Regions from separate parts of the Homo sapiens genome. Here regions 2, 3 and 4 are each reported to be linked to region 1. Evidence: microRNA targets listed by miRTarBase, many of them from high-throughput screens and not tested one by one. Region 1 holds a microRNA gene; each other region holds the end of a gene's coding sequence.

Region 1 (3,175 bases):
TTGTATTTCAATTAGAATTTTATATTAGAGGTTTGGAATTTTACAGTAATAATGCATATCTCAGAGGACTTTTATGGAGAGGAAATGAGTTAATTTCTGCAATGTGCTATGTACATCATGATGATGATGATGATGATTCTTATAATTCCTATACCATGCTGATTTGTATACTGTGCTTTAAAAAAATGTGATCTCTACCTTGAGGAATGACAAAATAAGAATTTTATATTATATTAAGGCCCTTACATTTTAACCAGAGAATAGTTTTGGTGAGTTTACATGTCAGATATGTTTACGCTAGAAGGTTTGGATTTAATATTGCAGACAGTAAATAAACAGTGGAAGGCTTTAATCAGAGAGACTGCATGATCAAATTTAAGTGTCATGCTAACAAGGGTGTACTTAATTTTGAGAAACAGCAGATCTGAATTTTGTATCCTGTTGGAAAGCTTGGATTTTAGCCAATGAGTTTCACGTAAGGGGGAACGCAGTTTTTTTTTTTTTTTTTACGGATGGGTCCAGTGGCTTAGAAGAAAACTCAGAAGTAACAAAAGGTGTTAAATTTATAAAGAGCAGTAGCTTTACAGTTAATCTATCAGATAATCAAAGCTTAATTTGCTCTGCCCCAGCAGAGAAGAAATGTGCAAATAACCCCAACCAAGACATTCCCTTTCAATTCTGTCTCAGCCCACTAAAACCACCCAACACTAGATTTCCAAAAATCCACTCTGGGACCGTCAGATTCCAAAGATGTCACATGTTCCCCCCAACCCCCACACTCAATGTCCCAACTCTGCCAGATACATGTCTGTTGGGAGGGCTCAACCAGCAACAGAGAGAAAAAGATATTTGCTAGAAAGAGGAGACCAGACCCACTGGCGTTAAGAAGGGGACCTGGGAGGATAAGATTGGAGAGGCGTGCAGATATGCTTGCACTGGTGAAATTGAGGCCAGATGTGTGAAGTTCCAGAAGCCTCACAAAGAGGGCAGTCCTGGGAGAGTGGAGATTGTAGGAAGAGAAGGAGATTATTTGAAGATCTCCTCAACAGCTCAGAGGTCGGGAGAACATAGCATTGGAAGGAGACCAAATCGAGAAAGAGAAATTGGCCAAAAGTCTGAGTTAGAATCAAGTAACAAATATGCAGTTATCCAGCACATAGTAGGTATGTTATAAAATTTATGGAAAAAAAAAAAAAAAACCCAGACCTGTACACACCCCCTGAAATTTCTATTTTGAACATGGGGAAGGAAATAAGAACTATTTTGGGCTGCTGACCCAACTGACGGGACAGTGGCCAAGTGCCCATTTTCTCCTCTTCCACTGCACTGGTGAAACAGTAGGCATCTTTGCTAGAGATTCCCGCTCCACAACCAAGGTGGCTGGGCTTGCTCCAGAGCCCTGAGCCTGCCAGGGGTGGCTTTGGATGGTGCTGAGATGTGACCTCTGTGATTCTCAGGTGACCAAAGCAGGAAAAGAGGATTGACCAGGTGCATGTGCCAGGGGGGAATGGAGCAGCCTGTGCACCCTGCCAGGTACCCGCCTGCCACGGTGGCTGCTCCCAGCCACAGAATTTATGGGCTGTGAATTTCTCACATCTATGGAGGAAAAGGACAGGACAGGCAGACTGAATAAGCCTGGGAGGCAGGTCAGGGGTTGACAGATCTTCCCTCCCTGGGGGCACCCCAAGTGACCAGCCAAAGAGGCTGGCTCGATACAAGAAGGCTTTCCCCCATTTCTCTCTGCTCTGATTAGTTGGGCATCTGATTTGTCCTTGAGACCCTGATACTGCCACTTCACAAGATCCTAAACTACTGCCTTTACTCCCCACACTCCCCTTCCACCACCAGGTTCTGATCTCCACGGTCCCAGCTACTGACTGGACGCCATCACAACCTTACCAATCTTCAGAATACACTCCTTTCCATCCGACGAAATGATAGAACCCTCTGAAGACTCATTTGAGACGATGATGGAGCATAAGAATCCATCATCAAAACAAATGGAGTCCTCCGAGGGCTCATCCAACACCACCGAGGCGACGTCGGGCAGTGGAGTGCGGGGAGAGGCAGGGCCAGCCAGCGGCCCAGCCCAGGAAAAGAAGGAGCCCCCCAGTGGCCCACTCCAGGAAATGGAAGAGCTGCCCACTGATCTACTCCAAGACATGGAGGAGCCATCCAGTGGCCCACGTAAGGAAATAGAGGATCCACCCAATGACCTACTCCAAGACCTGGAGGAGTCATGCAACGGTTCACACCAGGCAAGGGGGGATCCACTCAGTGGAGCATCTGATAGGATGAAAGAAGCATCAGTCAACCCATCGGGAGCCCGAGAAGAACAAGAGGCTCACACTGACCTGAAGGAATCGGGAAGGGAGGAGACTCCTCAAGAGCAAAACCAGACCGAGCACTCAACCGCAGAACTTATGGCCATGGTGAGGTCCATCATCTCGCTGTACTTCCGAATGCAAGACCTCAAAGAGCAACAGAGAGTAGCAGAAGAGATCTTGATCAAAGGGATCAATGCAGGCCAACTGCCCGCCCCAAAGCACTTCTCTGGCGATCGCAGAGAATTCCACGAGTTCATCGTACTCTGCCAACTGACCTTACAGAGCTACCCAAGAATGTTCTATAACGACCGTCTGAGAGTTGGCTATGTCATCAATCACCTGTCCGGCTTGGCATTAGAATGGGCCAAAGCTCTACTGCAGGAAAACAGCCCCCTGATCGGAGACTTCCCAGCCTTCCTGGAGGCCATGTCCGAAGTGTTTGAGTACCGCCAGGCACTGCGTGTGGCAGAAGAGGCCATGTTCACCATCAGGCAGGGCGGCCGCTCTGCCACTGAGTACATCGATGAGTTCCAGAGCCTGGTACCCATCTTGGGCTGGCCAGATGAAGTCCTGCAGGCCCACTTGTGCCAGGGGCTCAACGAGGAGATCAGGCACTATCTATTCCGGGTCCCTCAGCCGGATTCCCTAGACAGTCTGATTGTGCTCATCCTGCAAATAGAAGAGAAGCTGGCAGAGAGAAGAGCTATGCTCAGGCTGCCCCCCGAGGCCCGCCCCCGGAACCTGACCTGGATCGACTCACCTGCTCCAGAGAGGTGGATGGTCAGCAGCTGGTTGCCCAGCGAAGTCCATCCGGACATCAATCGCGCCCACCTCTTCCTGCTGCTCAT
Region 2 (3,146 bases), not on the chromosome of region 1:
TTGTAGTAAAATACTCCCCTGAACGACAGCGTTCTCTTCGTCCTCATCATGATGCTTCTACATTTACCATAAACATTGCACTTAATAACGTGGGAGAAGACTTTCAGGTAATTATGACTCTTGTGTTTTTAGATTTTTCAAAAGAAATATATCATTATGAAAAGGACTTTGCCTTAGGCCTTAGTTTCTTTTTTAAATTTTGCTCAAATGACATAATTTGAATTTTGCCACTGGTTAAATATAATCTGATGTATTTCTTCATTTTAACTTTTTTAGGGAGGTGGTTGCAAATTTCTAAGGTACAATTGCTCTATTGAGTCACCACGAAAAGGCTGGAGCTTCATGCATCCTGGGAGACTCACACATTTGCATGAAGGACTTCCTGTTAAAAATGGAACAAGATACATTGCAGTGTCATTTATAGATCCCTAAGTTATTTACTTTTCATTGAATTGAAATTTATTTTGGATGAATGACTGGCATGAACACGTCTTTGAAGTTGTGGCTGAGAAGATGAGAGGAATATTTAAATAACATCAACAGAACAACTTCACTTTGGGCCAAACATTTGAAAAACTTTTTATAAAAAATTGTTTGATATTTCTTAATGTCTGCTCTGAGCCTTAAAACACAGATTGAAGAAGAAAAGAAAGAAAAAACTTAAATATTTATTTCTATGCTTTGTTGCCTCTGAGAATAATGACAATTTATGAATTTGTGTTTCAAATTGATAAAATATTTAGGTACAAATAACAAGACTAATAATATTTTCTTATTTAAAAAAAGCATGGGAAGATTTTTATTTATCAAAATATAGAGGAAATGTAGACAAAATGGATATAAATGAAAATTACCATGTTGTAAAACCTTGAAAATCAGATTCTAACTGGATTTGTATGCAACTAAGTATTTTTCTGAACACCTATGCAGGTCTTATTTACAGTAGTTACTAAGGGAACACACAAAGAATTACACAACGTTTTCCTCAAGAAAATGGTACAAAACACAACCGAGGAGCGTATACAGTTGAAAACATTTTTGTTTTGATTGGAAGGCAGATTATTTTATATTAGTATTAAAAATCAAACCCTATGTTTCTTTCAGATGAATCTTCCAAAGTGGATTATATTAAGCAGGTATTAGATTTAGGAAAACCTTTCCATTTCTTAAAGTATTATCAAGTGTCAAGATCAGCAAGTGTCCTTAAGTCAAACAGGTTTTTTTTGTTGTTGTTTTTGCTTTGTTTCCTTTTTTAGAAAGTTCTAGAAAATAGGAAAACGAAAAATTTCATTGAGATGAGTAGTGCATTTAATTATTTTTTAAAAAACTTTTTAAGTACTTGAATTTTATATCAGGAAAACAAAGTTGTTGAGCCTTGCTTCTTCCGTTTTGCCCTTTGTCTCGCTCCTTATTCTTTTTTTGGGGGGAGGGTTATTTGCTTTTTTATCTTCCTGGCATAATTTCCATTTTATTCTTCTGAGTGTCTATGTTAACTTCCCTCTATCCCGCTTATAAAAAAATTCTCCAACAAAAATACTTGTTGACTTGATGTTTTATCACTTCTCTAAGTAAGGTTGAAATATCCTTATTGTAGCTACTGTTTTTAATGTAAAGGTTAAACTTGAAAAGAAATTCTTAATCACGGTGCCAAAATTCATTTTCTAACACCATGTGTTAGAAAATTATAAAAAATAAAATAATTTTAGAAAGTTTTGTTGTTCTATTATTGGTGTTTATCTTCCAACGTGAATACATGATGGAATTGTCTGAAAGAATGAAGCCTTTGATTTTTCATTTTGCTTAGTAGATTTAATGATATACGAAACTATTGAATTATAAATGAAATTATAAAATCTTCAATTTTAGGATGACTAGGGATTTGATCTAACTCGTTTTCCAAGTGAGAAAATAGAAGCCAAATGTTATTCAATATAGGTTTATTTGTTTATTAATATTTTCTGGGTCTCTATTATGGGTCAGGCACTGTTCCAGGCACCAAGGATATGTTGATGAAGAAGACATTATAGTCACTGTGAGATGGACTTAAAAAGATAAGGAAGTTGGTTCTACTCCTGTTCTCTTCTTTGGCGACACTTAATACCCAAAGAAAATTTCTACTATCCATCAACTAGGATAAGGAGACATTTTAGTAATGATTTGTGAATTATGTTACTGTACATCAGGAATGGTTTTCAAAATATGTAACACCTGGTATGATGTAGATGCCAACTCATCGGAACAGACTCTGGTTATAAAAGCAGATCGGTTCGTTCCTACCAGTGCAAGCCAGCTTAATATCTCTTGTGGTACAGTTCAAAGACATCTCCCAGGTACTAGTTATTTTCCATTTTGGTATCCATGGGTGGTTACTTAGCATAACTATTTCAGTCTCATGCCATGTTTTCAGAAATGGGATCCAGGTAGTCTATTGAGCACAGTTTTTTTGTCTTTCCTCTTATCCTACATTCCATGAAATAATATAAAATGTAGCTTTAAAAAGATGATTCATAATTACTGAGAGAAAATTAGAAAAATTCCCATAAGTAGATTAAAAAATTTGAAAAACGGAAAACGAGTAGAATTGGAAGGATGGAGAAAAATACAGCTTGAAACACACAGAGCAGAAGATACAGAAAGTACATCTATTGTTTGATTCATTCATTTTATGCAATATAATAAAGGCTTTTTAAAAAAAATACACACACACACCCATATATATAAACAATTATCCCCTGAATAATATGGGCGTTAGAGGCACTGATCCCCATGCAGTCGAAAATCCACATGTACCTTTTGACTCCCTCAACACTTATCAACTAATAACCTACTGTTGACTGGAAGCCTCACTGATAACATAAACAGCTGATGAACATTTATTTTATATGTTATATGCATTATACACTGTATTGTTACAATAAGCTAGAGAAAACGTTATTTAAAAAATTATAAAGAAAGATAAAATATATTTACTATTCATTAAGTGGAAGTGGATCATCATAAAGGTTTTCATCCTTGTTGTCTTCGCGCTGAGTAGGCTGAGAAGGAAGGGGAAGAGGAAGGGTGTCTCAGGGGTGGCAGAGACAGAAAAAACCGGCATACACATGAGCCCGCGTAGTTTAAGCACATGTAGTCCAAGGGCTTATTGT
Region 3 (3,000 bases), not on the chromosome of region 1:
ACCACCATTACCGTCCTGACCTCACCATCTACTTTTCTCCCCCTCAGTAATTCCACTATTGCTCAGCTGCCCCTGGTTAGAGCCACCTTGATACCCTGTTTTACATCTGTAAACACTATAATTCTGAGAGAAAGAAAAAGCCCACCACATCCTACAATTGTGACCCCCACAACTATATGTTAATAGATGCTCCATGCCTGAAATTACCTCAGCCTCTCTGTGATGTGTGTTTAATGCTGAGTTAATGAAAAAAATTCATAGAATTGATTACTATAATTATTTTGTCTTAAAAGGTATCTCAGCATGTGGGAAGTATGTTCTACAAGAAAACTCTTTCATTTCCTATAAGACAAGCATTTGATCAACCAGCAGATACATCCCCTCTTCTGGATCCTAATTCCTGGAGTGATACAATGAACATTTTTTGTCCCCAGGATACAATAATTCCTAAAGGAATTGAGCGAGGTAGTATGAGAAACTAAAAGCCCTCAAGGAGGAAGAATAGTCTTAGCCAGTTTTCCAAAGAGCCTAGGATATTACAAAGGATGTGTGAGGATTTCCCAGTACTGGATGGAGAATGAGAAGAGAAAGTCAGCCTTTCTGGGGCTTTCATGGAGGAGACTTGCCCAAGGGGCTTCCCTGCCAGGGCTGAATGACCCCAGCACCAAATGACTGGAGACGCATCCTTAGGAGCAAATGCTAATGAAGGGGAGATTTACAAACATCAAGAAAGCTGCAGATGGATGTTTCCATGAAGAAATCTCTGAAGAAACCAAAAGAGCTGAAACTGAAAAAAGAGCTCCCTCCCTTTTTTCACTCATTTTCCATTCCCAAACCCTGAAAGAGATAAAGGCAACCCAATGAAACCACAGAGAGGCAGAAGAGAACGGGCAGAAGTACAGAACAGAAATGGAGAAGCTGACCACGACTCCATCTCTTCTCATTCCAGATTTCCAGCGTGAAGCAGGCCCAAGCTAGGGAAGGTGAGAAGCTTTAACCTTAAATTTTCGAGTTTTGGCCAGGCGCGGTGGCTCACGGCTGTAATCCCAACACTTTGGGAGTCTGAGGCGGGCGGATCATGAGGTCAGGAGATTAAGACCAGCTTGGCCAACATGGTGAAACCCCGTCTCTACTAAAAATACAAAAAAAAATTAGCTAGGCCTGGTGGTGCGCGAATGTAGTCCCAGCTACTCGGGAGGCTGAAGCAGGAGAATTGCTTGAACCTGGGAAGCGGAGGCTACAGTGAGCTGAGATCGTGCCACTGCACTCCAGCCTGGGTGACAGAGCAGGACTCTGTCTCAAAAAAAAAAAAAAAAATCGAGTTTGAATATTATTCATGACTAGGTATTTTATTTCTGAAATACAACTATGTTATGACTGAAAGTGACTGGAGGACTGCTTTTTATCTGAGAGGGAGGTGAAAAGTCATAGTATCCACTTGAGATTTCATCCAAGGGGTGGGGAAGTTATCTCTGCAAAGCAGGTTTGAGCTGGCAAGGTGGAGTGCTCTCTGCTCACACCCTGTGGAATCCCACATTTTCAACTTGATGTTTAACAGAATGTCTCTGAAAGGATAAACAAGAAAATGATGACAGTTTGCTCAAGGAGGGGATTGGCTAACAGGATATGAAGTCTTCTTACCATATACATTCTTGAACATTTTGAATTTTTAACCATGAGAATATATTTTCTATTTAAAAAATTTACATTTAACATGAGCAAACTCTAGAAAGCAGCCTCTGAGATGGCCCACAAGGATCCCTGCATCCTGGTATCCCAAGCCCTTGTGTGATCTACTCCGCTTGAGGGCGGGCTGGGGGTATTGAGGCTTTTCTAATGAACAGAATACAGAAGGCGTGATAGATGGGATGTCACTTTTGTGGCTTCTGTCTTGGGTGCTCGCTCTCTCTCTCTCTCTGGATTTCTCACTCTTGGGGAAGCCAGATTCTTTGTCTCCAGGCAGCCCTGTGGAGAGCCCCACATTAACTTGGAAATGGATCTTCTGACGCTGCCAACAGCCATGTAAGGAAACTTGAAGGTGCCTCAGCTCCAGCCCACAGCTTGATGGCAGCTCATGAGAGACCCTCAGCCAGAGGCCCCCAGCTAAGCCACTCTGGATTTCTGACCCACAGAAACTGTAAGATAATAAATGTGTGTTGTTTTCAGCCACTAAGTTTTGAAGTAATTTATTTCACAATAATGGAGTACTAAAACAAACAAATTAAGTTGCATTTAGTAAACACAAATTGCATGCTACCCACATTCACTTTTTGATTTGGAAGGTGGGCTTTTGAAATCATTTTCCTATAAGCCTAATTTAGTTAAGCTTCCATTTCTTTCATTTTTACTAAGACAACAGGTTTTTCTTCTGACAAAAACTGTATGAAACCATCACATGTATTTGTGAATTGTTACTTTACTCTCTTGGTCCCTTTGCTGAAAGAGAGACAGGGACAGACAGAAAATCCTCCCATATTTCAAAAATATGTCTTTTTTAAGTTATTTAAGATGGCAATAAGCCAATGAATAACGAGTGGCAAGATTTTTACTAAAAATAACTTGAAAAATGCTTCACTTCCTCTTTCCCTCTTTTTATTCATCTGATGCTCAGTGTACCGAAGAACTGTTTGGTCACGTGACATTTCACCTGCTATACTACCCAGCAAACAGAAGTTTCACAAAATGCCAGGTGTGAGTTACAGATGCTGTGGTGAGGGATAAAAAGAAATGCTTAATATTTTTAATGGCAAAGTGATAATGAGGTTCAATCACTATGATGACTTTTGAGTTTCGTATTGCTGCTAAATAAGTCCATTGAGTTGGTAATTGATTGATTTGCACAGATGTATCTCAATGTTGCTCTAAGGAAAATGTTCCGATATGCCATCTTGGCATGTACTATCACCAGAAAAAACCACTGTGCTTAATTTTAGGTCCATGCATTTAAAAAAGAACCAGAAGAACACATGTAAAGGAGGCCCTCCCCAGCTCTCAGTACTC
Region 4 (3,147 bases), not on the chromosome of region 1:
TGTTACGGGAATCTTCTGTGATAGATCTATAGTCTCAGGCTTCCAGGCTTCCTATTTAATTCTTGTTACTTCTCATACTGTGGGTTCCATTTACCACTGGACGTTACATTCCTGATATTCTTTTTGCAAAGACTGAACTGACTTAGATGACCTTTGAATAACTCTACATCTTTTCCTTAGAAATTGACCATCTGATCAGTAGTTGATTTTTTTTTTTTTTTTTTTTTTTTGCTTGGGATCATCACATTGAAGAGTCATTGAATTAGTAGAGAAGGGATACCATAAACTTTGTGTAGCATAACATTTCTGATTATTTATTTGAAAAAACACTTCGGTCAGTGAAAAGAATATATATTTTTTTCACAACATTACTGTTGATTCTTCCAAAGGCCACGTTTTCAGTTTCTTTATCCAGAGATGTATGGGGTTAATAGCAGAAATAATGCTGCTGTTAGGGGAAGGCTTTCTGACCGATGAAGTCAGTCCAAGTATAACTCTCACTCTCCCTGGAGGTCTCTGTGGCATTTGGCAGCCCCCTGGGTTTAGAGGACACCAGAGGAAGACAGAAAGCCTCTTTGGCTTGACGACAAATCACTCTTCTGTATTCTGGGAAGACTTTTTAATTCATTCATGTCAAAACATCCCAGACTCATGAGGAAATGGAGGCGATCCTTGCTGGGGTGGATTAAGGTCTGGAATGCACTGGAAGGGCAGAAGGTAGAAAGGGCTAAAAGGCTACACAGTCATGGAGATTCAGATTTAGGATCAGATGTTGGGGTGACTATTCTGGGCCCTTCGATCCAGGCTTCTCCATGGCTGGGTCTTGGGGCAGCAGAGGTACAGCATCCGGGAAATAAAATGTCATTTTCAAGCACATGCATCCCCAGCACCTAGTCAGCCCCTTCTGCCTTTCAAAAATGAAAGGAAGCTCCTCTCACCCACTGCCTCCCTCTGTCTCCCTATGATTGACCCTGAAATTTATTGCAACCACTTTTCATTATAGGAACACTGTAGGTCAGGTGTACTTTCCCAAAGATGGAGCTATTCCATGCATCCTTGAGCTTTAAGGGAATCATCCCTGACACTTGCCCACATGCAAGAAAATAATACTTACAAAACAGAACGCACACCATGAGGAGAAGAAATGGGATAATTTTTCAACCTGCCACTTTATCCCTTTCTTCAAGAATGTAAAGCAGAATGCAGGAGGAAACCAGGAAATGGCCAGGCGAGTCTACATTAGCTTAGTGTTTCCGTAATGGCCCAAAACAGACTGAGGTCTTCTGCAAACACTGATGGCTAGTTATCCCAAATACTTCAAAAATATTCATGTACATGAAATACACTAATTAACAGAGTAGAACTATATAAAAGGTTTAGTTAATATTATTTGCTGGTTTTATGATATTTAATTTTTAAACTAGAAAATCCTGATCTGAGAAAGTGTCATAACATAGCAACTATCTTGTCGGGGGCACTTGTTTTTGTGGCAGGCACTGTGCTAACAGGCTCCCCATGCATAAGTATTCCCCTCTCTGTCTCTAACTTAAAAAAAAAATGGATATCATTTCATGTCATATATGCACAGGTTTGAGGAGAATAAGAATGGGATAATGCAGGCGACTCAGAAATGACAAATACTTTGAGGAATTTTTCCTACATCTCTGTTGGTGCTATGAAGTGGTTTGCCACCAACAGAGAGAATAACTCAGAAGGGAGAAATTGCTTGTCTCACTAAACTGTATCCACAGTTTGGAGGATACTCAGGGTAGATCCAAGAGTGCCTCGTGTTTTGAAGGCTTTTGATTTGAGGAGTTTGGGGTGGAAGTGAGTGTCCAACAGAATTTCTGGATGTGAAGGAAGATAAACCTAAAACCATGCTAGCCTTCGGCAGACAGATGGCATTGTACTTCTTACAGATCACAGTACACATACGGCTGTTGGTGCATGTCACCACATTAACAACTCTGGGAAGAGCGATACACAGCTAATTGGACACCACCATGGCTGTTTGGAAACGGAACGAGTTATGGTTACTCTGGGAGGGAAGGGGTAACAGATACTATACAACCCTGAGTCATCACCAGAAGGGAGGAAATGCAAACTTACGTACATAGGCGTCTTCGGGATAAACTACAATGGCCACTGTGTCACAGACAGAAGATCCACACTTAGATCTCGGAGACATAAATGTGTTAGTTTATGCAGCTCTGAACAAGACCATCGAAGCCGAGGGTGAGAGAAACACACATCAACATCCAAAGAGATTCCTGTAGCTCTCCCCACCTGAGGGTCCCTCGGGCCTTTGGCTCCAGATGTGTCTTGGAAATGAACTATAATGAAGGTAGCACAGTCATCACGAACACACTGATTTGCTATTCTTTAGGGGAGCCTGGAGTTCTTGGGGTGAGCCTGGGCTGTGATGGAAGGCATAACAAGAAAGCTGAAACTGTTACGAGCCAAACTTCCTAATCTCTTGCACATGTCAATCGCACTACAGTGCAGATGCATTCTTAACTGTTTTTATTTTGTCTGTGTCAGGTTTACATGCACACCATATTGCTTATTCTGTATTAGAGAAACCATTAGGCATTTCTGATGAGAAAATTACATGGTGGGCTGACCTTAATGGAATTTGGAATATAGGAAATCATAACATCACCATTGGCATCCAATGCATCATTATTGCCAACATACCCAGTAGGCATGTCCCGGAGACTTGCCCTTATGTAGTTAGTTATTTTTGGTTAAGGACTCACCTATCTGGTGTCTGCCATGCTCAGCACACACCTCACAAGATTCCTTGAGTGGAAGATTATGGCATGAAGCCGTGTGCAAAAGAGCCAACAACAACAACAACAAAATACCTCCCTACATCTTCTTCCTCTTAGCAGGGCACTATTGGACATCCAACATTTACCCTCCAGAACATTGGCCATTACGTATATTTCCCTATAGATAAAACATTAATGGAAGATTTTTAAACATCAGATTCGATACTAGGCATTTTCTTGTACACGCGTCTATTGCTGCAGGAATTTAAAACCCTGGGGGTAGAGTACATATTATTCTTATTTGCAGCATAAGGCATAACATGCTCCGAAATATACACATCATTGTGGCCCCGACTGTCCCTGGAACAGTACG

What was found. Region 1 holds the annotated microRNA hsa-miR-136-5p (ACUCCAUUUGUUUUGAUGAUGGA, at 1,985-2,007, opposite strand). A microRNA usually pairs through its seed, bases 2 to 8, with sites in the 3' UTR of a target mRNA and lowers its output. Matches are read on the target gene's strand: a 7mer-m8 pairs with bases 2 to 8, a 7mer-A1 pairs with bases 2 to 7 and ends in A, and an 8mer does both.
Region 2: the mRNA of PLOD2 is a reported target of hsa-miR-136-5p. The part of its 3' UTR that is shown has no 7-base or 8-base seed match.
Region 3: miRTarBase lists SAMD7 as a target of hsa-miR-136-5p. Seed matches in the 3' UTR shown: 7mer-A1 at 571-577 and 8mer at 909-916.
Region 4: miRTarBase lists GRIN2A as a target of hsa-miR-136-5p. Seed matches in the 3' UTR shown: 7mer-A1 at 808-814.

The regions. Positions count from the first base shown.
Region 1 is chr14:100,883,548-100,886,722 of GRCh38, reverse strand. MIR136 (microRNA 136) reads right to left here and starts at 2,021; the gene lies at 1,940-2,021. RTL1 (retrotransposon Gag like 1) reads left to right here. Exons shown (of 4, transcript NM_001134888.3): 4 at 1,849-3,175. The coding sequence starts at 1,935. MIR432 (microRNA 432) reads right to left here and starts at 2,240; the gene lies at 2,147-2,240. RefSeq lists a silencer at 737-1,031.
Region 2 is chr3:146,068,003-146,071,148 of GRCh38, reverse strand. PLOD2 (procollagen-lysine,2-oxoglutarate 5-dioxygenase 2) reads left to right here. Exons shown (of 20, transcript NM_182943.3): 19 at 1-107; 20 at 277-1,709. The coding sequence ends at 432. LNCSRLR (lncRNA sorafenib resistance in renal cell carcinoma associated) reads left to right here and starts at 1,964. Exons shown (of 2, transcript NR_146297.1): 1 at 1,964-2,330.
Region 3 is chr3:169,938,025-169,941,024 of GRCh38, forward strand. SAMD7 (sterile alpha motif domain containing 7) reads left to right here. Exons shown (of 9, transcript NM_001304366.2): 9 at 294-1,151. The coding sequence ends at 482. Among named protein-coding and RNA genes, the nearest start is that of SEC62, 27 kb to the right of the region's middle.
Region 4 is chr16:9,760,169-9,763,315 of GRCh38, forward strand. GRIN2A (glutamate ionotropic receptor NMDA type subunit 2A) reads right to left here. Exons shown (of 13, transcript NM_001134407.3): 13 at 1-3,147. The coding sequence ends at 2,981. Among named protein-coding and RNA genes, the nearest start is that of LINC01195, 310 kb to the left of the region's middle.